Linked DNA regions of Homo sapiens: regions 1 and 2 are each reported to be linked to region 3. Evidence: microRNA targets listed by miRTarBase, many of them from high-throughput screens and not tested one by one. Region 3 holds a microRNA gene; each other region holds the end of a gene's coding sequence.
What was found. Region 3 holds the annotated microRNA hsa-miR-4770 (UGAGAUGACACUGUAGCU, at 4,885-4,902, shown strand). A microRNA usually pairs through its seed, bases 2 to 8, with sites in the 3' UTR of a target mRNA and lowers its output. Matches are read on the target gene's strand: a 7mer-m8 pairs with bases 2 to 8, a 7mer-A1 pairs with bases 2 to 7 and ends in A, and an 8mer does both.

Region 1: the mRNA of ZBTB37 is a reported target of hsa-miR-4770. The part of its 3' UTR that is shown has no 7-base or 8-base seed match.
Region 2: miRTarBase lists CENPP as a target of hsa-miR-4770. Seed matches in the 3' UTR shown: 7mer-m8 at 3,260-3,266 and 7mer-A1 at 7,292-7,298.

Annotation. Positions count from the first base shown.
Region 1 is chr1:173,884,211-173,892,629 of GRCh38, forward strand. ZBTB37 (zinc finger and BTB domain containing 37) reads left to right here. Exons shown (of 5, transcript NM_001122770.3): 5 at 1,426-8,419. The coding sequence ends at 1,914. Among named protein-coding and RNA genes, the nearest start is that of ZBTB37, 20 kb to the left of the region's middle.
Region 2 is chr9:92,611,858-92,620,144 of GRCh38, forward strand. CENPP (centromere protein P) reads left to right here. Exons shown (of 8, transcript NM_001012267.3): 7 at 666-757; 8 at 1,162-8,287. The coding sequence ends at 1,292. IPPK (inositol-pentakisphosphate 2-kinase) reads right to left here. Exons shown (of 13, transcript NM_022755.6): 12 at 7,629-7,708; 13 at 1,326-4,200. The coding sequence ends at 3,975. LOC100128361 (a long non-coding RNA gene) reads left to right here and starts at 6,193. Exons shown (of 1, transcript NR_036505.1): 1 at 6,193-8,287.
Region 3 is chrX:6,380,390-6,388,808 of GRCh38, reverse strand. MIR4770 (microRNA 4770) reads left to right here and starts at 4,846; the gene lies at 4,846-4,903.

The DNA.
Region 1 (8,419 bases), not on the chromosome of region 3:
GCCTGATGACAGCTTATTGCAGCCTTGGCTTCCCAGGCTCAAATGATCCTCACACCTCAGCCTTCCCAAGGAGCTGGGACTACATGTGCGCACCTCCACACCCAGCTAATTTTTTATTGTTATTTTTTGTACAGGTGGGGTCTTGCTATATTGCCCAGGCTGGTCTCAAACTCCTAGGCTCAAGTTATTCTCCCACCTCAGCCTCCCAAAGTGCTGGGATTATAGGCATAAGCCACCACATCTGGCCTTAAATCCAAGATTTTTAAGTAATTTATTGAAAGGAATATGTTCATACTGCCTCCCAGTTTTCGGATAAAAGAAACCCATGCCCTCAGACAATTTACTCTGAAGTCAGTTAAACTTTAGTAGTCTTTAGAGTGAAAATAATATGTTCATATGATACTGAAATATTTTACATAAAAAGGAATATTGTCACCTACAAATTGTATACATTTTTATAAAGCTAGCTACTGCTAGATTAAAATGTGGTATTAATGATAATGTCACAATTTATAATATGTTGCCATTATATATTCTATACTATCTGATATAGTAAATGGTAGCCATTAGCCACTTGTCACATGTGGCTATTTAAATTTAAATTGTAATTAACTGAAAGCACTTAAAATTGTAAAAATTACTCAGTTGTATTAGCCATATTACAAATACTCAATAGCAACAGGTGGCTAGTGGCTACTGTAATGAATGGGGTAGAGCATTTTCATCATCATTGATAGTTCTGGCTGGGCGTCGTGGCTTACACGTGTAATCCTGGCACTTTGGGAGATCGAGGTGGGTAGATTGCCAAAGTCCAGGAATTCAGAACCAGCCTGGGCAACATGGCAAAGCCTCGTCTCTGCAAAAAGTACAAAAATTATCTGGGAGTGGTGGTGCGTGCTGGTGGTCCCAGCTACTCAGGAGGCTGAGGTGGGAGGATCATCTGATCCTGAGGAGGTCTAGGCTGTAGTGAGCCGTGATCACACCACTGCACTCCAGCCTGAGTGAGAGACCCTGTCTCAAAACAAAAACAAAAACAGATAGTTCTGTTAGACCAGCACTGCCTAAGTATTTGATTGTCTAGAATATAATTGTAAGATTAGGATCCAGGGTATAGTATAAGTGGGCTCAGTTTCTCCTCACATTACTGTAAAATAGTACATTCAGCAGGGGTTTAATAAGCATCCAGTTTGTCAGCCAGAAAGTAACTTTACTGTGTTGTTCTTTTATAGTAATGGAATAGAGTAGTCTCAATTTTTTAAAAATTATTATGGTAATATCTTTACTTTTTGGTAATAATTTTCTGTTTGATCCGCCACTAAAAAGGTACATATATCTTAGTAACAAGTAAAAATAGATTTGATTGCTTTTAATATGTATGCTTAATAATATTTGTTCTTTCTTGGTTATTTTCCTTACCTGGTACAGGTAGAAGAGTCAGCAATGATGGGAGTAAGTGGCTATGTGGAGTATCTCCGAGAGCAGGAAGTATCTGAGCGGTGGTTCCGGTACAACCCTCGTCTCACCTGCATCTATTGCGCCAAATCTTTCAACCAGAAGGGAAGCCTGGACCGCCACATGCGCCTACACATGGGGATCACACCATTCGTCTGCCGCATGTGTGGCAAGAAGTATACCCGGAAAGATCAGCTGGAGTATCATATCCGCAAGCACACAGGCAACAAGCCCTTTCACTGTCATGTCTGTGGCAAAAGTTTCCCCTTCCAGGCCATCTTGAATCAGCACTTTCGCAAAAACCACCCTGGCTGTATACCCCTGGAGGGGCCTCACAGCATCTCCCCTGAAACAACTGTCACATCTCGAGGACAAGCTGAGGAAGAGTCACCTTCACAGGAAGAGACAGTTGCTCCTGGGGAAGCTGTCCAGGGCTCTGTGTCCACCACTGGGCCAGACTGAAACATCCAGGGGGAGGGGGCTGACCCTCTTCCCCTATGAGCCATAAGCAGCCAGCATCAGAGCCATGGGCTGATACTTAGATTCACAAAATGCCACATCACTAGGCCAGAAGATGCTCCCAAGATGTTGCCAAACTGGAGGATCAGCAACTTACACAAAAGCACTAAAGGCTCCTCCCTTCTTATTGCCCGCCTCACACTTTGGAAAATAATCAAGCAAATCAACTTTCTAATTCAGGGATCAACAGCCTTGGTTTGTTAACTTTATAAGAAAAAAGGTTTTTTAACAAAACGATGATGATAAATGGTCATTTATCTATCAGTCATGTTTGAACACTGTACTTTGGTCCATATCATCTTGGTGGCTATAATTGCCCGGATCTAAAAAATGCAGCAGGAGCCTCAACCATCCGAAGCAGCCAACCGCAAGAGAGGAGGTAGTCATGATGGTGATGAGGAGGAGAAATTTCTCCTCTTCCTTCCCTGGCATAACATGCATTTTTGTGTTTCAAGAAAAAAATGAATACTGGTGGTTCTTATTTTGAAAGGTTAGGCTTTATCTTTCCCCTGACTAGGCATCTAATACTTTGCCTGGTTATTTCATATAATCAGCCATCTTGAAGCAGTATTCTAGTGGACAACATCACCTGAAGCACTTGGCAACTGGGAGTGAAATGAGCAGCAAAGTGTATGCAATAGGTACTGCTACATTTGGGGGGCTTGAGTGTTGTGTTGAGGAAGAGGAGAGCAGGGAGGGAAGTGTTTTTATGTTTTGCAAATATCAAACAGCACAGAGCCGTTCTGCAACTTCCTGACTGGTATTTGTAAACCATAGTGCTACACATCCTTGGGTAATGGCTCTAGTTCAGGTGAATTAATGTGTTAGGCTGACTACCAAAGTTTCATCTAGTCTCTTTGGCTCCTATTTTCACGTTCAGCAATATTGTAATCAAAAATGTCACTTTCCAGTGAAATGAGCCTGGATTGTATTTTTAAATCCACAGGTCTCCATATTTGATAACTTTTATATGAAGTTTTAAACATGTTTTTTCTGCAGTATTGTGGTTGAAGAAATTCAACACTATGGTTCTTACTGCAACCACAATTTCATTTCCTTATACATATGTAATAGTTTATATTTTCAGGCATATAGAAGGACCTCACTTAAAACTATGTCTCGGGTCTGCAAACCTAGTAATTCATAAACCAACCATCAGCAAACCATAGCTGGTGACTCCAAGAGCTTTGCTTTTTAATAATATACTACAGGGCACTTATCAGAAAACATCATGCAGAATCATGTTGCAATAAATGATCAAAGGATCAATTTTGGTCAGGTTTGGTTACTTAGTCATTCCTAAGATTTTTAAAACTTCAAGGGACCCTTTTAGTAATTCTGGGTATTTCTAAGATTCTTAATCCAGCACTGAGAGAAAGAACTTAGCAAACATGTAGAGCTTTGGATACCCCGTCTTTCATGAAGTGAGAGAAGGAGGAATATTAAGGGATGCCGGCAAATAGATGCTTATAACTTACAGTGCAAGTTGAAAAATCTCTAGCTTCTGTTGACGGAGCACTAGTTGTTGGGGTTCTTTTAAGTATGTAATGGTTTAAGAAATTGTTTCAGTGCAGAGGCATAGATGACTGTAAAAGAGATTTGGCAGAGGGACAGGTTGTACCTGCACTGGTGAACCATCTGTGAGAATGTTAGTCATGTGCTCCTTTCCTGAGATTGCTTTGTGGTATGTGAAAAGGTGGGTAGAAAAGAAAGAAATCTCTTTGAGATAAGAAATTAGAATGCAAAGGGTAGATCTTAAGCAATCTGAGAATTGTACATGTACATAAAGCTGCACCCTCTCACAAGAGAAAGGTTATTTTATCTTCTGAAAAAGCATAGAAATGCATCTTTTATGGGAAGATAATGATGCTACCATTTAATAAGAGCCTACCCTTAAAGGCAGCATTGAAACTGTATTTTGTCTTTAGAAGACATAGACTGGTGCATCCTCCGCTTTAGTTAGACAACAGCATGATAAGGAAAAAACTGTCTTCTAAAGCCATCTTTAGGGACTGGCTGTGCTCTGTGGCATAGAAAAGGTAAAGTTGAATTAGCCAAAAATCCTTAGGGAAACAACTGGTAATAAGGTTTTCAGTGGACAGATTTTGTCATTACTAAATAGGCAGTGAGGTGAGAAGTACAGATTATGCTGCTTTGGATGGAGCCTTTAAGCCTACCAAAAAACTTTTAAGTCCATCCTACTTTTGAGAAATAGTATGCTAGAAAGTTCTGTTTTTCTTTTTCTTCTTTTTTATATTTTTTAGAGACTGTGTCTTCCTCTTGTCACCCAAACCAGAGTGCAGTGGTGCAATCATAGCTCACTGTAATCTTGAACTCCTAGGCTCAAGTGATTGACCTGCCTCAGCCTCCAGGTAGCTAGGACTATAGGCATGCACCACCATGTCTAGCTAATTTTTAAATTTTTTTGTAGAGACGGTGTCTCTACAAAATTTGCCTAGGTTGGTCTTGAACTCCTGGCCTCAAGTAATCCTACCACCTTGACCTCCCGAAGTGCTAGGATTACAGGCATGAGCCAGTGAACTTGGCCTGGAGAAAGAATTCTTTGTTGCTTTGTTAGTTTCTTAGATTATATGTGAGAAAATGGAGCTTTTTAAACTATTACCAAATTTTAAAGGTGAAGTGCAGTAATTTCTGTAAAGAGAAACTTTGCAGCATTTGTCAATTCTCCTTCCAGGGTTAGCAACAAACAAATGAGGTAGGGACTATCTCATTCATGTGGAAATGCTATGAATGTTTGGTGGGTTTCCCCTCCCTTTTCTTTTCATTCACTTTAAATAGCCTTTTCCTATATTGATACTGTGAATAGGGTGCTTCCTGGTCATCTAGGACCACTTTAGCACAATCATGTTTGCTGGTTCTCTCAATTGGCCTAGCCAGAGCCACAAAATTCATGAAAATTTAAGGCAGGCTAGCTTTTAAACAAATTAAAACTTCTGAAAACAATTTCAGCTTTTTCGTTAAAAGAGATGTTGTTATTCTAAATAACTGTCCAAGACTCTTACCCACATACACTGTGACATTGTCCTAGTTCTTAGCTAACAACACATTGGTCATAGGAGTTACTGATGTTCTATCTACATTAATGAACAGCTATTGGTGTATGCACAGAGGATACCTCTTAAGGATGTACTAAATGGACTTTGTTTGGTTGATGCTGAAAATTAATTACCAAATCTTAACTTGCACGTGTTACCTTGTGAAGGGAACTGCATTAGCAATGAGAGCTACATCATCATGAAGTACTTTAATGCCATGAAATTGCAAACACTGGGACTGTTTTCATTTATTGAGTGGCACTTAGTAGCAAAGGAGCTATCCAGTATTCTCAGCAAAGAAGAGAGACGGAAGTATATTAATCTATTTTCATACTAAGATGTTCCTTTATTCTGTCTGAACTCTAATACCAGTATAAAATATAGCATTGGCATGAACAGTTAATGCTGTACTTAGGCAGAAAGGCTCCTTCTAATGACTTGTTCTCTCTTTACTCAGAACCGTATTTACCTCTGAACCAAGTTGAATTTTATTTTATCCAAGTTGCAAACTACCCCATGCCATTTTTATTATAATAGAGGGTTAAATCTAATCTCAAATACATAAAGGTAAATTAGTTCATAGAGGATAAAGTTTGGGAATGAAGAGAGCAGTTAAGGAAAATTTTATTTTTTGTCATTTTTTAAATGTTTCCAGTTCCCTCTACATCAGTGAAACAGGGTTTTCCAAAGATGGTTTGAAGATAGAAAAAACTTTTTCCCCCCGACTTCATAGTTGACATCTGGTATTGGTTGGAATTGGTCTGGTGGCAGAGTGAAGTAGGGAACTTCATTTTTTTCTTTTTTTTCTTAAAGGCAGGGTCTCACTATGTTGCCCAGGCTGGTCTCAAACTCCTGGGCTCAAGTGGTCCTCCTTCCTCAGCCTCCTGAGGAGCTGGGACTACAGGCGTGTGACCACACCTGGCTGTAAATGTCATTCTTAATAGCTGAATAATCTTTGGTCAAGAAGTAACTTTTCCAGAGTTTTAGCTGTTACTTGACATTAATTGGGTTTCTTTTAACTGGTGAAAACTGTATTTATTTTGTTTGACCAGACTGTCTAACTTAAATGAAAGCAATGGATAATGGAAAGGAAACTGAACAAAGACAAAAGTCTTCTTCATCATAGTGAAAGGCATTTAATCAGGAAGAGTTGGAATCCTGGAAGTTTTTCTTTTTTTCAGGTACAAGAGGCATGATTTTTTTCTCTTCCTAAAATGTCCTTCCCCTTATCTGTGTACTTATTAGTTCAAGGAATAACAAATGAGTCTTAATTGAACTTAGTCTTTGGAAATTGAGCTCTTTATTTAGGTTATATGTGAAAGAGTTTAAAATATTGAAATACTTTGGTTGCTAAGCAGATTTAGAAAAGCAACAAGCAATTGTCGGGCAAATCCCTAGGTTTGAGAAGATGTCCTCAGCAAAATATACCCTTAGGACTTACGGAATTAGATCAGGGTTCAGCAAACAGTAGTTTCCAGGCCAAATGCTGAGGCTACTTGCTTGTGTAAAGAAAATTATAATGGAATAGGGCCACACTTACTTGTTTAGGTATTGTTTATGCCTTCTTTCTACTACAATGGCAAAGTTGAGTACTTGTGACAAAGATCACGTGGCTACAAAGCTTGAAAATATTTACTGTCTGGTACTTGTTAGAAAAAATTTGCCAACTCCAAGAAAGAATTACCTCCTAAAGTTGTTACTCATGACATTTTGCCTTTATAATAGTTTGGTTGAAGTTTTAAATTCATGTTGTCACATATACATGTTTTCTTGAAAGAGTTTGCCAACTTTTTCTAGATCCTCTTATCATAACTCTTTTTGTGCTCCTTCATGATTTTTTTGTGCTCCTTCATGATTCCCATTACTTTAAAAGCATTTAGAATTGGCCTGTTGTTTGTCCTTGTCTTAATGGTGCCGGTATTTTAAAGTTTAGTTGTAAGTAAGTTTTGCCATTCCTCTGAGTTAACTTGAACTGGTTTGCATAATGGTGACAAGAATGAATTTTTTCCCAAGTGGATTAAAAACTAATTTCATTATGAAGAAGTATTTTGATTCATATCCAAAGTACTGTTTTTCTGGATTAGAACCCCTACCTTTTCCCTTTGCAATGTATCTTAATTTTAACTTCTTTAAACTTACTCTGTTCCATGTAGAGCAGTAAAAAGCCAAGTTTTTCTTCCTTTTTTCCTGGATGTTTTGAAACATAATGAAACATCTGAGGATTTCAAATTCTTTTTAGACCTATCTTCCCATTTCTGTTATTGTCTATAATTCTTCTAAATACATATTGGACCATTAACATGTTTGCTTTGTGAATGTTCATTCTTAGTGTTCAGATAGCCTACTTATACTCGATGTGGGAAAAATGGGAAATGTTAGGGGGTTCATAAACAGAAATCCTTGCAGGAAGCCGGGTGTGACAGCAGACACCTATAATCCCAGCTACTTGGGAGACTGAGCTGAGAGGCCCACTTGAGGCCAGGAATTTAAGGACCAGCCTGGGCAACATAGACCTTATCTCTAAAACAAAAAAAAATCCTTGCAAGAAGAGAGAATAATTGCTTCCCATTTGGAAATGATATAGGGACTTTTGAATTAGATCTATCTTGACAAAGTTTTCTAGGCCATGCTGATACAGTATAGGGAGTTTGAATCTGTTGTGAGCGCTGTCAACATAGACAAAGTTCAAGTGAGTAACTAGCTTTCTATAATAGGGACTCTCTTCACTAGGTATTTTAAAGTTGCTGCTTTCTAATTGGATATTAGGAAGTTTTATATGATATACCCTCTGAGTAATAGATAATCCTCATCTATAAAGTTCCAGAATATTTGCCTAGGTTAGATCTCCCCTGGCTTAGAGCAGTTATACCTATAGTAACAGTAGGTTTTTGAGATTTTGGAGTATTACTTTTCTGATTAACCTAGGATTCTGATTAACCTGGAAGGTGGGACTTGTGAAAGAAATTGGATTTTGTTAGCCCAGTGAATCATCTGCATCCCACTCTATTTGAGGTCTTGGTAATAGATGTCAATTTAAATATGCATCTATTGAAAGCAATGGAGTTTTCCAAGCATTATGACTTCCTTGATAATTTTCAGTCTTATCTTTTTTCGTATTTTCTAGTCTCTTTCCCTGTCTTTAGTCTTCTTCCTCTTAAATGGTGCTTTTCCCAGGGCCAGTCTTTCTACTTTCTAAGCAAGCAGGCTTTTTTGTTCAGGATAAGCCAGAGTTAGATATTATGAATACTTTGAAACATCTGAATATGTTACATTCCAAAGTATGTAATTATTGATAGTAGTATCAAAACCTGGAAGATATTGGTGCAGATTATTCAGTTTTGCTGTGTAGGCAGGCTGTCTTTCTCCTCAACTGTGACACAGCAGTGACTTGA
Region 2 (8,287 bases), not on the chromosome of region 3:
GTGGACATGTATCCATCTGGGTGTGCTTTTATGACCTGTGTGTGAATGCCTCAACTCAACTGGTTTCCAAGCTTTAAAATCATGTGGTCCTTATGCAGGCTTCTGGGACTTGCCTTTGTCACCGTTCACCTCCTCCAGGGTCATGAGCAGCTGCAGTGCAGTTTCACTGCTCATCCTCCCGGAGGGGATCATACACAGCGTCTTGCTGCGCTCTTCAGCTCTGGAGCACGTGGCTTCTTTGTTCTGGCTCACACCTCCTGGCACACAGTACATAAGCTTCTCCTGGGCTCAACTGCCTAGAAATGAAATTCCTGTGTCATGCATGGATGCATGTTCAGCTTACTGTCAGTGCCAGATTATTTCCAAAGTGGCTTGTCCATGTCTGCTCCCACCAGTAATTTTGAAGTTTCTGTTGCTCCATGTTCTGTACTTCGCTGGTATTGGCCTACTAATGTTTGCCAATGCAGTGGGGACAGAGCAGCACCTTCCTGTGATCCTGGTTCCATTTGCCTGTGCTACTGACTGTGCCTCTTCTTGGCTGTGGATTGGGGTTTCTAGCAGGGGAGCCCAGCATGGGGAAATGGAGACCAGGTGCGACTCATGGTTGCTAATCTTTTCGCCAGATTTCAAAAAGCACATAACGACATGTTTTACTGCTTTTTCAGGTTTGAATTAGTCATTGTTTGGAGGATACAAATAGATGAAGATGGGAAGGTTTTTCCAAAGCTGGATCTTCTCACCAAAGTCCCACAGCGAGGTAGGGCCCTGGGTGTGGCTGCTCTAGGTGACTTCTCAACATGCCCAGCAAAGCCGCCTGCCTGTTTCCTCTGGGTTTCAAAGGGCAAGAATCAAAAATTGGAAATCTCATTAATGTACTTTGTCTATCAATTTTTAAATATTTTTATCAATAATCACTCAAAAAGAACATGAAAAGGGATTGCTGCCCCAAGGCCCTCCCAGGCTGAATGCACAGGGAATATGCCTCCAGCCGTAGGTGAGGCCTCCACTCACTCCATCTCCTCGCCCGCCACTAGCATGTCCCATCCCATGCAGCTAGTCGGGAGGAGTGCGGGGTCTTGGTGAGGTCCATGCCAGCAGAAAACAAAAGACCAAAAGCTGCCACCTTGAAGTTTCTTACCCGGTTTAATGTTTTCTTTATAGCCCTGGAGCTGGACAAGAACAGAGCCATAGAAACTGCTCCTCTCAGCTTCCGAACCCTGGTAGGACTGCTTGGAATCGAAGCTGCTCTGGAAAGCCTGATAAAATCGCTTTGTGCAGAGGAGAACAACTAGTTCCAAAACAGTGAACGTGGAGGATGAAGATGCTGCGTGGAGGAACATGCAATTTTATTCAATATAAACATTTGCTATTTTCTGCTTAGAAACCACACCCTGAAGACGTGCTGTCTATGCAGTTATGGCACATTATATGGAAACTCTCATGACATGAAAAATAAATACAACTAGTTAAGTATAAAATGCCAAATAAAAGTGACACGTACAATGTGGTTTATAAAAATAAGCTTAACATCTGAGAAAATGTACCAAGTGGTTGTGTGTCCTCAGATGTGTGGGGAGGATCCATCCCCCACCCACTGCAGCCTCACACCGAGTCCACCTTGGACATGGTGGCCACATTACTCAGCTGGGAGAAGCCACCCTTATCCTGGTTCCTGCCTCCTGGGGGCTCTGGAGACGGATGCCTATGGCGCCTCATCTTTAAACTGTCCTTAGTAGCCCAGGGGAGCCACACCCTCACTCCCTGCCTCCCCCCGGTCCGCATGGTGGCACCGTGAGGCAGTCTCAGCAAGTCCTCATGCTGTTCTTGGTCTTCCACAAGAAAGTGAAGCTGTCAGCTTAATAACAAGAATGGCCTAAGACAGCAAAGACAGCACTGTTCCTGGGCTGGGACGCAAGGAATGAGGTCCTTTATGAAAGAAAGACCCCCCTGCATAGCCTAAGTGCTATATCGATCGTCCCGGATGTGCCTTAAGAACCGTGACCTCATCAGTCGCCCATTTAGCATTGTTAAGATCTGTGAACGCGTGTTGTCTCAAACCAGTCAGGGCCGTCATGACTACGCAGCAGCAGCAGTTTCCAAGACGGGCCAGAAACGCATCCACAGCAGTGGCACCCGCGGCTCAGGGGCTCCTCACAGCCCGGGCTGGTGGGAGCCAAGACCAGACAGAGTGGGGGTCTCCATCTGTTTTCTCTTCTCCCTCAAATACAGGCTGTTTTCATCGTGTCTAGTCCAGCCCTGTCTGGGCCCTGTGCTAGGCAATAACTCTTGCAGCCCTGAAGGACCTAGGGAGCCCAGCCCACCTTCCCACGGACTGGGGTTCCCTCACATGTGCACTTGAACCCAGGACCCAGCATCCTCCACACACCGTGACAATGGGCAAAATCATCCCAAACCAGGCTGCCCCAGCCCCAGCCCAGCAACAGTGAACTCCCTTGGGTCAAGACAGTACTCAACGGCCACTACCTCCACGCTTCCCAGAGCCTGCGGCTTGTCCGTGAGCTCCGTGCACTTCACCAAAGCCCCCATCCCAGCACACAGGACCCGTGTGTATGAGACGGTGTCATTGGAAGTGAGAAGAAAACAGTAAAAGTGTCCAGTTAGATAAGTATCTTTTTGCACCTCTGAGAGTAGAATTAGAAGTAAATATGACAGAATTGAACAATAAATTCTAGAAGAGTTGCCTTGATTCAAACAAGTATAATTCTCAAGTTATCACAAAATTTCCCACAAAAATTTACAATCAGCAAAATAGTTTCCTTATTTCTCATGTATCATTTTCATATAATTCCATGGTTTCACTAATATTATATGTTACAATAAGCCTCCATTAGTCCCTCAAAACGATGATATAAATAAGTCTGTACAACCTAGCATAGAATAAAAAACTGAAACCAAGATTCCCAACGTTTTTCATAGCAGCCGGGCACACTTTGGTGACCCCAACGAGAACCCTCTCGGCAGCAGCCAGGAGCTGTTCACCTTCCAGAAGCAGGGCCTGTGGCAGCCTAACAGGGAGAGGCCACGGGGCCCAAAAACGCAACACGTCTCAAGGCAAACCCGAGGGAGGAACTTGGTCTGGGAGGAAGAGAGAACTCGCTCCTCAACCACCCCAGACACTGGAGTGTCAGGAAAGCACTGAGCTGTTGGGGCACACTGCCCAGCCCGGCCACAGCAGCTCAGCCAGTCACAGCTCCACCTCCAACTTCTACAGCAGCAATTTTTAGTGGGAAAGAACAGCTCATCTCCCCCTCATGTGAAAGATTAAATTGTAAAGCAAAAAAAAAAAGGTCAATGCTCGCATGAGTGGTGTCCATCCTGACCTGAGCCTTGCGCTCCCTGCTGCCCTGTGTGGAACTGTGGGCTTCAGCACCTCCACAGGGACCCTGAGTCTACACTGCTCAGAATCGGCATCTGCGCGACCACGAGGTCACGCTGTGCAGCAGGGAACCACCTAAAAACCTGTGTTGATATGTGGCTTGCACTGAAAAAGTGACCATGTAACTCAGCTGGGGGAAGTTCCAGTAGTATCCATGTTTTCTTAAAAGTCCAAACTGTAAAATGTATGTGACAATTCAAGTTTTCTATGTTAGGAGTCTGGTGGTAGCAGATCCAAACCTTGGGTCTTAGAATAAGGCTTTTCGCATTAGAGAATCAGACATGAGCCCTGGTTGGGAAAGAAGAACTATCCAGAACGTCTTCCCAGGGCTTAACGGACACTTCCATTTTAAGAGTGTGAGCAGCTTCCTGGGACACAGCACTCACTTCCTACATTCCTTGTCCAGGAAGTTGTTTCTAGTGCTCTTCAATTCCATGTCTCCAAGAGGCAATCCCACCTCAAAAGGGGTTAAAAGCAAAAACATTCACAACCAAAGGTCACCCAACACAACAGAAAATATCTCTATCATTCAGCCTTCACATTATGTTCAAGTTTCAAAGACACTGCAGGGAAAGAGTTAGACCTTGTGGAGAACTAATGTGCAATCTTCGCTTTCCTTGAACCGAGTCGACATCACGGCGTTGTCTTTGGCACGTACAGTCTTTGAATAATAGTTGACGATCTTGCCGTCCAGTTTATACTGATGGGGAATGCTCTCGTAGGGCTTGAGGTCAAGGTCCAGCACAGACACGGAAAAGGCAAACCTGGACCTCGATGAAGGGACGACAGGCCTTTGATCAGAGCTGCAAGTAAAAAGTACCATTTCAGGATACACAAGCCCCCCATTCATTTCCCTCCCTCCCGTTCTCTCTCCCTTTCTTCTTTCAACTAGTATGTTTTTATGTTTTTTCTTTGACTTCTGCAAAGTTAGATAAATCAATCTCTTTTAAAAGAGAAGTGAATGGCCTCACACCCCAGCTCACAAAGAGCACTCGTTCTGTGCACCTGTGATCTGTGCGTGTGACAGCTGTCTGTGCCGGCTGTGTGCACCAGCGTGCAAAGCTTCCTCAGGCCAGTGCACCCCACCATACCAGGCGAGAGAGGGTTAAAGGACTGAAAGATGGAAAAGTAATTATGTGGAACATGTGAGCGATGTTCCCCCAGCCCAGTGGTATAAACGAACGCTGAAAAATCACTTTATCATGAGCCAAGTATTACAAAACCCAACAAAAAGTAAAAAGTAGATCTGGCCATTCCAGCGCCAAATGGATGGAATGTCGACAAGCCTTCTTCTTTGCCTCTCCTGTCTGCTGAGAAACGCAAGCTCCTTTGGTTCACATTTGAAGAGATCTGGTTTCTCATTTTATTCTCAAATTTTATCTTCAGTCCTTTGTATTTTGCTTCTCAGGGCTTAGTTTTGTGGTTTTAACCTCAGAAGTCGTGTGCTTATAACAAGATGTGATTAATTATTTGCCCTGAAAAACACATTTAGGATTACTCCGAGTCCTGAGCTCTGACTGCTGTGTGTCCCGCTTTTCGTCTCCGGGCACTCAGCGCACAGCACTCAAGACACTGGCTAAACAAGTGACCTAAGCTCAGTTCAGTCCAAGAGAAGTATCCTGGGTTCTGGTGTCCCAATGTTTACTACGCTTTGAGATTTAGAAATCAACAAGCCAAACCCCAACTTCAAAAGCTCCTGCCGAGGAGAGGAAATACTGATCAGCACGTCCCTGCTCTGACGCTGCTCACCATGGCCTTGGCGCTCACTGCTGCCCTGCCCCAGAATCCTGTTTGTAGAAAAAACAAATCCCTGACTAAGCTGCTGGGGTAAGTAACTATTCTCATCTGAAGAGTAAACAGCAAATAACTCATTTACAAATTAAGGTCATGAGTCTCGCTCCAGAAGCTGGAGTGTGCCTGCAGCTCATCCCAAGGGGCCACATTTTATTGGGAGAACCTCAGAAGCCCAAGGTACTGCTCAGTTCTGAGGCCTGAGACCCAAGCTGGGTGCACCTGGGCTGGAACAGTCACATCCCCAGCCCATGACTAGGGTTACGTATTTTAAAGGACACCCCAATTTCTCAGAAGCAGCACCTGACAAGACCATGGGTGTAAAGACAGGAAGGATGTTCCAGGCAGCTCCCGGGGAGGGTCTGACTACCTGGGTCAACCACAAGCTAGCTCCATGGGAACCAATGGCAGTGACCAGCGGGCACCAGCTCCTGACACAGAAATGCTCTTCTTCCCCCTCAGTACCCCGGAGGCCAAGACTGGGCAAGAGGCCCCAGGGACACACCTGTCCCTTGTGCCACAAGTGTGCCCTCTAGCAGCCTTGGAGAATGAGGCTCAGGTGGCCTTCTGGCTGCAGGGGGGCAGCCCTTGCCTGGAAGGCCGTTCTCCAGGACACTGACCCGCTGGGGGTTACCGGGGGACCAGCAGCCTCCAAGGGTGCTGGGGATCGGGGTGGAGAAGCCAAGGCCGCACACTGTGTTTCAAATGGGAGGTCGAGAGGAGCATCAGGGTTTAGGCCGGGAAGCTGTGGCAGCTCTCTCCACAGTTCCAAATTCCCAAAGGGACAAAGCTCTGCAGCGACAGGAAGGCAGATCCAACTTGAGACATTTTCCTTTATGACAGGGCAGAAACAGTAGTGCAGAGCTGGAGAAGCCTTTATTTTAGGGGGTGTAAGAAGTTTAAATGTGGTCAATCTATCTGTGAGCTGCAAATTAGTCTAGGGATCTAAATTTAGTCTCAGGTCTACCAGGTATCTCAAGACGCCAAGATGACTCATGATAAATCCCAGCCTTAGTTTGTCCCTAGGCCTCTAGAGCACCACAGTTACTGGAACTTCACAGGTGCGGCCACTGCGCACACCTTCCTGGAAGCAGGCCCAGCCCCACACGCCATGTTCTCGGAGGAGAAGCCTTCTCTGAGATCCTCTCCTTTTGTTGAGAAAGGCCTGGCTAGAGTGCTTTGTGCAGGATGGTTCCAGTGCCTACACCCTAGGTCTGAGAAGCCACATGGCTCAGTGCCTTCAGGACATGCCCTCCCCTCCCCTCCTAGTGTCGTTTCTGCTGAGCAGCTGGTCGTAAGGACCCGGGCCTTCAGCTTTCCCCGCATGCTGGCTTTCCAATTTGACATCACTGACCAGGCACTAAGAGATTCCCAGGTGCTAGACGAGGTGAGTAACATGTCTGTCCTTCAGCGGCCTTTCACAGCCCACCTAAGGGCACCCTGCATCCAAGCACATTTCCATTGCCCAGCTGCATCCTTGGTCGGGGGGCTGCTGAACAGTGGTATCTTCGTGGGTTTTCTCTCATCGAACACCACCAGCTTAATCCAGTTAAGGAATTCCTCATAACTTAGCCCTGTAGGTATTTCCTTAGGGGATAACAGGAGTTTTCAACTAAATAGAACAACCTTTTTTCTACTTCAGTTAGCCCTATAATGTTCCTCAGTATTTCATATTGGAAAGTAAACAATTCTGTGCCTGCCAGGGAACAGGAATCCTGGGAACTGTTTAGTTCAAAAGCACCGGGAAAGTGAGTGGCTGGCAGCCAGCAACCAAGGTCATCTTGACCCAGGAACACATGTTAGAAGAATGTGGAACATTCCGCAAATACTGGGTGCAGGGTTTAGCACCCCTGAAGATCGGTGATGGAGATGCTGTCTAACGACTATGAGATTATCAGTTTCATCCCGAATTCCCAGAAACAGAGGGGACTGGACAAAACTAGTGACATTAGGGAGAGGGGCGGCACATAGGCTGGTTATTCAGAAGAGGAAGCAGAATGAATGCGCGCCTCACAGGCTTTCAAATGACTGTGGTGGTAAAAAGGCAGGTGCGCCATGCTGCCACTGTGGGAGACCGAGGAACAAGGGCCACAGGTACCCACACATCTCAGGGGCTGGCTTTCTTTGAGGGAATGCAATGGGCAGCTCACTGTCCACATTGTTTCTGAGCTCTTGGGAGTATTTTCTTAGAAAACAGTAACTTTCAATGTACTAACAATCCTTTTAAGTTATTCTCCATAAATCTGTCTTTTGACTGAATTACAAGCTTCTAGAGGGCGAGAGTTAGTAAGCCCCATGATGTCACATAGGCCAAGGAAGTTATGTCACTCCGCCATGGAGTCTCTAAATATGGGGAAACCAACTATCCTATTAACAATTCACCAACTGTCCATAAAACCCCGTTAGACCCAGGCTGCATGCCTTGCAGTGGGGGCCTCACCTGGCATCCTGCAGACAGGGAGACAGTGCAATCATGATGGAGCAGTCCTTGGCAGTCATGGCGACGCGGTACTGCTGCACCTGCAGGGGCGGGAAAGATCAGCTCCAGGTCACACAGGAAGCCTCTGCCCCCCCACACAACCTTCCTTCCCAGTAGCCAAGTGTGGGAACTGCTTCCTGCCTCAGAACCTGAGGGTGGGATTAGGAGCGAGGGCCACGGTGAGCACGGGCGTCAGGAGGTCGCCCTGTGAGAGCACCTGGGCCAGCCCTCAGTGCCACGGGGCTGCTCAGAGGCCAGCACCGCCCCCTGACCTCTCACGGCAAGCAGTGTGGGACCCCGACTCCAGACCCTGAGACGGATGATCTGTCTTCAGCAAGGTCACCACAGTCGGCCTTTGGAAGGAAAAGCAGTAAGCCACCTGAGCCCCGCATGTTGGCCACACTCAGAGTATCAAGTGAGTATCACTCGACACCTGCAAGGAGAGCGCAGGGGGTGTTCAGCAAGGCATCGCTTAGAACGACATTCCCTCCGGAACATCATACAGCCACCAGAGACAACGGCAGACGGCCACCCTTCTACAGGCTGTGCATGTGTTAACTTGCTCCACCCTCACAGCAGCCCAACAGGGCAGCACGGCCGGCGTCCCACTTTACAGACAA
Region 3 (8,419 bases):
CGCAATATTAACACAGAGTTATGTGAAAATTGTCTGTGAGACCAGAACACAATCTCAGTTCAGCAGAGTGTGTGCATTGAGAGGTGAAAGGTGATAAAAGCAGACACAAATGTGTTAGCAAGATTTCCTACAGTCTTGAGTGACAGGTCAACAGGTTAATTATTGATATGGAGGAATAGCAAGGAAGTGATACAAAGCAGAGAAGAAGTAAAGCAGGTTCAACTCAGGTAGTTTACAGAAAGAAAGAGAACAAGAAGTGTTTTCTAATATATAATTTTAAATTTGTCTATTTGCCTTAAAGAAGGCATGCTGCCTAGTGCTAATTCAGAAATATGTTGGAAAAGGTAGAGATGCATTTTGTTATGCAGACAGAAACAAGAAATTTGGAAATAGATGTAAAAGGTGGAAGTTTAATTTTGGAAGAGGAAATGGTATCAGTTAATTATAGATTTATTATGCTTAATGCATCACTATATTCAGTGGCAGTTGTATAGGTTGGAAAAAAAACAGACAAAAATCAAAGAAGAGAGAGAGAAAAAAAGAGAATACTTGCATTCAAGAAACCATAAGAATATGCTAAGTAGACAAAGGGAGTTTGGTCAAATGGAGCCAAAAGAATAATAAAGATGAATGTTCCATGTTCCTCTTAGGGCATTTGTCTTAGAGGCGTTCTTCTCATTAAAATTTTGTAATAATAAACCAGAAAAAATTATGTCAGAATGAGGTGACAAACTGGGCCTCATGTGGTTCAAGTAGCTCTGCTTTTTGCAGAAGGACAAGAGAGAATTTGAGTAGAAAGAAGATGCTTCCCTCACCTTACATATGTAGCCATGTTTTAATTACTTCAAATCTACGTGATGCATCCTCAACTGACTTGGTCCCAGTCAAATGTCACTCCAGTTGATGCCCCTGAATCCACCTTCCACCACCTGCTTTATTGGTGGCCTCCAGTGGTGGGATGGGGACCCAACACCTGGGAACTGTAGGGCTCACTCTCCCCGCATGATGGCTTTAGAATTGGCTGGCGTGGTTGGCTGTGGCTAGTTTCCAAAGAGTGGTCTTGCTCGCTCTTTGTACCCTCAAAAATAGTTAGAAGAACCAAAAGCATTACTAGAAACTCTACTCTGATGATTAATTGTATGTGTCAACTTGACTGGCCTAAGGGATGCCCAGACAGCTGATAAAACATTATTTCTGAGTATGTCTGCCAGAGTGTTTCCAGAAGAGATTAGCATTTGAATCAGTGGACTGAGTAAAGAAGATCAGTCAACAATGTGGGCTGGCACTGTCAAATCCCTTGATGGCCTAATGAGAACAAAAAGGCAGAGAGAGGAAGGGTACATTCTCTTTCTTCTTGAGCTGAGACATTCACCTTTTCCTGCCTTGCAAAATCAAGGCCCTGTTTCCCAGGTTTTGGGGCTCCAGGATTTACACCGTCAGCTCTTATGGTTTTCTGGACTTCAGTCTTGGATTAAATTAAAAAATGAGCTTTGCTAGGTCTCCATATCTTGCCATAGCATGAACCAATTCCCATAATAAATCTCCTGTCTGTATCTATAACTATTTCTGTATCCACCTATATATGTATCCATCTATTTATATCTATATTATTTCTATTTAATTTATAGATAAATAGACATATCTATCAATAGGATAAGTTTATCCTGTTGATTGTATTTCTCTGAAGAATCCTCATACAGTTATTGAAGACAGTCAGATTATGAGAAACAAAAATCAGCCAAAGGAGCTCTCCATGGTGCTTGGTTGAAAGTGAAGGTGCTTGGTTGTAAAGGGCCTGGATGAAAGTGAAGACAGAAAGAATTATGAGATCCGGAGCCAGATGTGACCTGACAGTTACTCTCATGCAGGTCTCATTATGTGGAAGAGCATTCTGAGGTCCGGACAGGTTAAGTCACTTGCAGAGGTCACATGGTGAAGAAATGATGAAGCACCTTGCAGATCAGATGCTGGCTCAGCAAACCCATGTCTTCTTCATCCCAGGCACACAAGGCTACATGCACTTCCAAGCTTCCCATGTGCCAGAGGTCTTTGTGGAGCCCAGTTCTCACCAGTGGGGTTGGGTGGGGCGGTTGTGTGCTGTGTGCTACTTATGACATGCAAACCTTCACGCTCTTTTCTGTTCCTTGCTGGCTGCAATGGAAAAAATCCCCAACTTGTTCTTAGATGTCTCATGTTGGAGTTAGTAGAATCACAATGTAGAAGAAGTCTGGTTTCTAAGATCAGCCATTAACAAAAGCTCCCTTTTCAGTAATGCCCACAGAATAACATTCTCTGAACGAAGAAAGAGCGGACATAAACCCCTGTAATTTCTTCAGTTACTTGTGTTTTTCTGATGCCATTTATGTTCATTGAGCTACTGTTATTTGAGGCTGATCTTCAGAAGCCACTGGTATTACTGTAACTGATTCAGTCAGTGGATTAAATGTCTCACAACACGGCCATCTGCTAGAAATGGGGAAAGAGCAATGATGCCCTCAGGCTTTGACAAGCTTCTTGGCTGGCAGAAGAAAGTGGAGTCAGGCTTTGAGACTAGGGATTTAGGGGGGGAAATGAGGCCCCTCAAAGTTGATGATATCATAGCCACACTTTACTATTGTGCCTTGTACTGAATTTGCATGGAGATGGCATATGTCGAGGATTTCAACAGGGCTGCTAAGTTTCTCCAATTGCCTTTCCAATGATCAGCCAAACATCGTATTGGTCAGTACATATATGATTTTAAAATGTAGAATTAGAGAGAGCAAAATAGAGAGAGAGAAAGAAAGCTAACTATAAGAGATATTTAGATAATGCATGTTTTGCAGTGAGTTTGACATTATAATTGAATGACTTCAGACATTACAATGGCATCTACTAAAATGTTTTCCACAGGCTGAGATTGCTGCCTTGCCCTTGGTCTACCCCCAAGTTTCTCAACCATCCCACTGTCAGAGGCGTTTGAACCAGAGCAACTCCACTATCTTGAATAGGGGCTGGGGAAAGTAAGGCTGAGATCTGCTGGGCTGCATTCCCAGAAGGTTAGGCATTCTTAGTCACAGGATGAGATAGGAGGACGGCAGAAGATACAAGTCATAAAGACCTTGCTGACAAAACTGGTTGCAGTAAACAAGCCGGCCAAAACTCACCAAAACCAAGATGGCAACAAAAGTGACCTCTGGTCATCCTCACTGCTCATTATATGCTAATTATAATGTATTAGCATGCTAAAAGACACTCCCGCCAGCGCCATGACAGTTTACAAATGCCATGGCAACATCCAGAAGTTACACTACATGGTCTGAGAAAGGGAGGAACCCTCAGCTCCAGGAACAGCCCACCCCTTTCCTGGAAATCTCATGAATGGTCCACCCCTTGTTTGGCATATAATGAAGGAGTAATAATAAGTATCCTCGGTGGAGCAGCTCAGTGGAGTAACCATTCTTTTTTTTTTTTTTTTTAACTTTCTTAATCAACTTGCTTTCACTTTACTCTATGGACTCACCTCAAATTCTTTTTTGTGCGAGATCCAAGAACCCTCTCTTGGGGTCTGGATAGAGACCCCTTTCTGGTAACACCACTATTGACATTTGGAAGGAGATATTTCTTATGATGGGAAGCTGGCATGTGCCCTGTAGTATCGCTGGGCCTCTGCCTGCTAGATGCCAGGAACAACCTCCCAGCGAGGACAAATAAAAAACGTGTCCAGATATTGCTAAACATCCCTAGAGGACCCAGTTGCCTCTGATTTCCCTTGAGTAGCTAAGCATAGCCAGAACTTACATTTGTATAAATGAATGAAAGAAAGAATAAGTCATTTTCCTAACAATGGTTACTTTACATTTGAAACACTAGAGCCCTTTCCCCACTTCTCTTTATGAACACAGAGATCGCCTGGAAAAAGTCTATGCACTTAACCCTTCTACTAGGTGGCTTTGGGTATAGAAGAAAAAAGCCCCACACCCCGGAGCAATCAACATTTAGGAAAGTGAAATCACAGGAGAAAGAGGGTGTCATACAAGTCGCTACTAATTTCCTTGACAAACGCTGTTTTGAGGAGCACTGTTAACTCTCTGAAATCTCTGTTTTCTCCCTCCTGAAAGATTTTTAGAGAGGATTCCTTTCAAAATTGGGTTCCGGGACTCCGTGTTTCCAGTGGAATGCTGTCACCATGAGACCCCGTGACGCACTAGCCCAGGAATGCCGGCAATAGCCAAGCAGAGCCCTGTGCCTGTTCTCTTCCTGGCACAGAGGCACACAAAACCCAAGCAGGCCCACCCAAGTCAGATCCTGGGCTGTGGGAAAGCCTTAGTGAATGAGCTCATTGAAGTGGAGAGATGAAAATGAGGGAGCTCTGAAACTGGCAGGGCCTGCAGAGGATTCCTAGGGGCAATTCCTCTGCCCAGAAAACAAGGGAAGGGGCCTAAAGCCCAAACAAGGACCCTCCTGATTAGTAGGGAGACAGAAAGCTCCACTCTCTTCCCCTCGCCCCCGCCCCCCACCCCATAAAACAAAGCTATTCGGGATGCTTCAATTGCCAAGTAGTGCAACAAATCACTTTGCCAAACGTGAACTCTGAAGTCAGGGGTGCTCAGCTCCGGCAAATGCCACTCTATGTCTGCTCATCCATGCAAGACGCTTTGCAATGAGAATGTTTACACTAGCCCTCCGTAAAGCACACAGTTACAACCCATCAGGAGGTATGCAATCAGCAACCAGGATGCACTGTCTGCTCTGGGCTTAGAGGCTATGAGCTAGGGCCATTTGCATAACTGAGTCAATGAAGGTGGTGAAAAGGGTTTTGATTCCTATCTTGCATGTGGAATCTCATTCTCTCTTAGAGATAATGAGTTATGGGGTCATCTATCCTTCCCTTGGAAAATGATCTGAGATGACACTGTAGCTCCCCATCCTCTGGGATCATTGATGTCTGTAAGATTTTATAGGAAGCAATTGAGTTGAGTGTACCCCCTTTCCCCTGTCCTCAATCTAAGTGATAATCTCTGGCACCCCAAAGGGTGTCAGACTGCTTTGTTGATCTTAATTCTGGAATCCCTCTAATCCCTAACTGGGCTTCCCACAATACCAGTGCCCTGGCTTAAAGGAGGTTTGCAGTATGCACACATCTCTGAGGATGGCTCAACTCTCCTGGCCCCCAAGGAATTCCAGGTATTCCATCCCTCTTAATACCTCCTGAAGTCTCTTAACTTCCACCAGACATCTTGTAATTCAGCCTAGATGACCAGATTTGCGTTTGCACCTGTCAATCAGCCTTTCGAGTTCTTGATGGAGAGAATGGAAAACATTCCGTTCTTACCAGACAATTCCTCTCCATGCCACAGAGCTGGCAGAGCACCTAATAGTGATGCTGGGTAAAGTGGCTCTCCAGGGGCACTGGGCTGCTACAGTTTTGAGGACAAGCACCCACACACAGCCAGTGGGCCCCAGGGCAAGCGCACTGTGAGGCGTGAGACTCTACCCAGTAAAGCTGGAGCCTTCAACCCCATAACTCCACCAACATTTGAAAACTCCAATTGCCTCTGGAAGATACTGCCGCTTTCTTCTCCAGGAAAGCATCTTCTGTCTGCTGAGAGTAATATTGTGCGTGGAAAGTCCCTTACCACGTAGTGTTCAGACACTGGAGAAAGGGAGAGGGAGTCATCACTCTGAGAGAATCCACGAGAGATCTGTGAAGCTGATGGAATTTCAGGGCGCAGGGTGTCCTATTCATACAGTAGACCTGAGTGTGTTCTGCTCACATTCCAAAACAACAGGACAGGGGAGGTAAGGACCTATATAGAGAGCCTCTGCCTATATAAATCAGCTTTCCTTCCAAACCATAAAGCCAAGGAACACTAGAGCTGTGAATCCTGGGAAGCATTTTGATTTTGTGTTCTTTCACATCTGTCTCATTAACATACGAAATAAAGTTAGTTAGTTGCAGGTTGTTTCTTTTTAAAAAAAAGAACAAGACAGGTGTAAAATCTATAAACACCTGCTAGATCAGTAACTGCCTCTCAACAAGACCAGCTGGCACATCAACATCTCCAGGAGATCATATCTTAAATGTAAAGTGAACAGTTAATGTTCCTGAACTACCTCTTATTTTAAAGCCATAGGAAACCTTTTGCGGGGGGGTGGGGGGCATCTCCCCAAACTCCTGCGCATGACAAGAGCTCTGCACAAAAGATAGGAAGACCCGGTCACCCTAGGCCACCTCAGCAAGGCGGTTGGTTATGTTCTGCTGAGAAGCCATGGAGCGATTATGTGAAGAAAGGCTGTTCTCTTTACCGGTGCCAAGAAAAAGATTAGATAAGAAAAGGTCACTGGGGCAAGGAGGGGTGAGTGGTTGTTTAATTTTTAACAAACATTGCGCACTCCATAGCATGGCTGTTTCCCCCACTGTATGATGTTTCAAACATTAATTGAATAAAGGGATGGTCTAAGCAAAGGTAAAAGTAGCCCTAAACAGAATGTTCCTTTGTGATCGGCGAGAATAGTTTGGGACTACATAGTCATGGGGCCTCAGAAGGACAGAAAGTCTACAACCAAGTTTGTGTTTTTTAAATGATTAGATCCAATCTGTGGGTATTTGATAAGTTGCCAAAACATTTCTTTAAATGTGTCGGCTGGGTGCGGTGGCTCACGCCTGTAATCCCAGCACTTTGGGAGGCTGAGGTGGGAGGATCACTGGAGCCCAGGAGTTCGAGACCAGCCTATGCAACATAGGGAGACTCCCATCTCTACAAAAAAATAACAAAAAATCGCCAAGCGCCTATAGTCCCAGCTGCTTGGGAGGCTGAGCTGGGAGGGTCGCTTGGACTCAGATCAAGGCTGCAGTGAGTTATGATCGCACCACTGCACTCCAGCTTGGGTGACAGAGCAAGATCTTGTCTCAAAAAAAAAAAAAAAGGACAGATGTTGCAGGGATGAAGAGTAGGATGAGGTGGGTGGAGGACATCTTTGGGGAAATGACAGGGAGCCGGTGAGACAGAATCCAGAGATGTAGAAGGGAAGTCAGCACAGACATTGGCCTAAGCCCTCCTTGTAAGGGACTGCAATGTAAAACGAAACCTTTCATACTACAGGAGACTCCACGGACTCCTTAACCAGAGCAATAAGGGGAAATCTAGCAGCAGTTGTAATCTTAAATTCCTTCTAAGAGGCAGAAAAGATAAGACACATACACAGAGGAGAAGGCCACGTGGAGATGGAAGTAGAGAGTGCAGTGATGTGGTCACAAGCCCAGGGAAGCCTAGAGCCCCCAGGAGCTGGGAGAGGCAGGAAGGTTCCTCCTCTAGCATCTCTGGAAAGGACTGGATACAATTGTAGTGGATTGAACAGTTGCCTCCAGAAAGATAAATCCACATCATAAAGCCCAGAACCCGGAATATGACGTTATTTAGAAAAATAGTCTTTGCAGATTTGTAATTAAAGTCAGATCTGGAGATGAGATTATTCTGACTTACGGTGGCCTTAATTCAATGACCAGTGTCCTTCTAAGAGACAGAAGAGGAGACATGGACACAGAGGAAAATGCCACGTGCCACATAGAGACAGAGGCAGAGACAAGTGATATGGCCACAAGCCTAGGGATATCTGAAGCCCCCACGACCTGGGAGAGGCAGGAAGAGTCCTCCCCTAGAGCCTCCGGAGGGCATGCCACCCTGCCCATACCTTGTTCTCAGACTCCTGTTCTCCAGGACTGGCAGAGGATATAATTTTTATTATGTTAAACCACCCAGTTTGTAATGATTTGTTACAGCGGTCCTAGAAAACTAAAACTAATAAACTAGTACAGATTCATGACACTACTGTGTTGATTTGCCTCTGCAGAGAAGTAGGTACCATCCAGGCAAGGATTCAAAGCGGCTGGTAGAGAGCTGGGCTCAGAGCAGGAGGAAAGGCCAGGCTTTTGCTGAACTCCTGGATGGACACAAGCTGTGGAAAGGTCACCAGCAATTGGCTGCTAAGAAGACAGGTCAGTGTGTTTACCTGATAGACCCAATTCAAGATCAAAGGAAGCTTCAAAAACAACGCACCAGTTACTTCCAGCAAGAATTCCATGAAGACCCTGAAAATCTTCTATGTCTGTAATGTGGCGGACTCTGGCTGAATACGACCCTGCAAAGGGCGTATAAAATGTATCTTGTGTTCCAAAGCTTCTCAGTGTATCTTTTCATTTGTGCCTTTCAAAAACCAACGTGATTCCACAGGGCTGGCCTGTCTCTACGATGTGGGCTGTAAGACAGCCTACTGTACCCCTCTGAGAGGTTTTTCTTAGCTGATTGATTGGGAAGGGTACAGGCACATCCCCGTTCATGGGAGGAAGAGGCGTCTGCTTCAATAAGTATATGACTGTGGCTGGCAGATTAAACAGACACTACAATGCAGTTACTTGGATTCTTAAAGTTACCCAAAC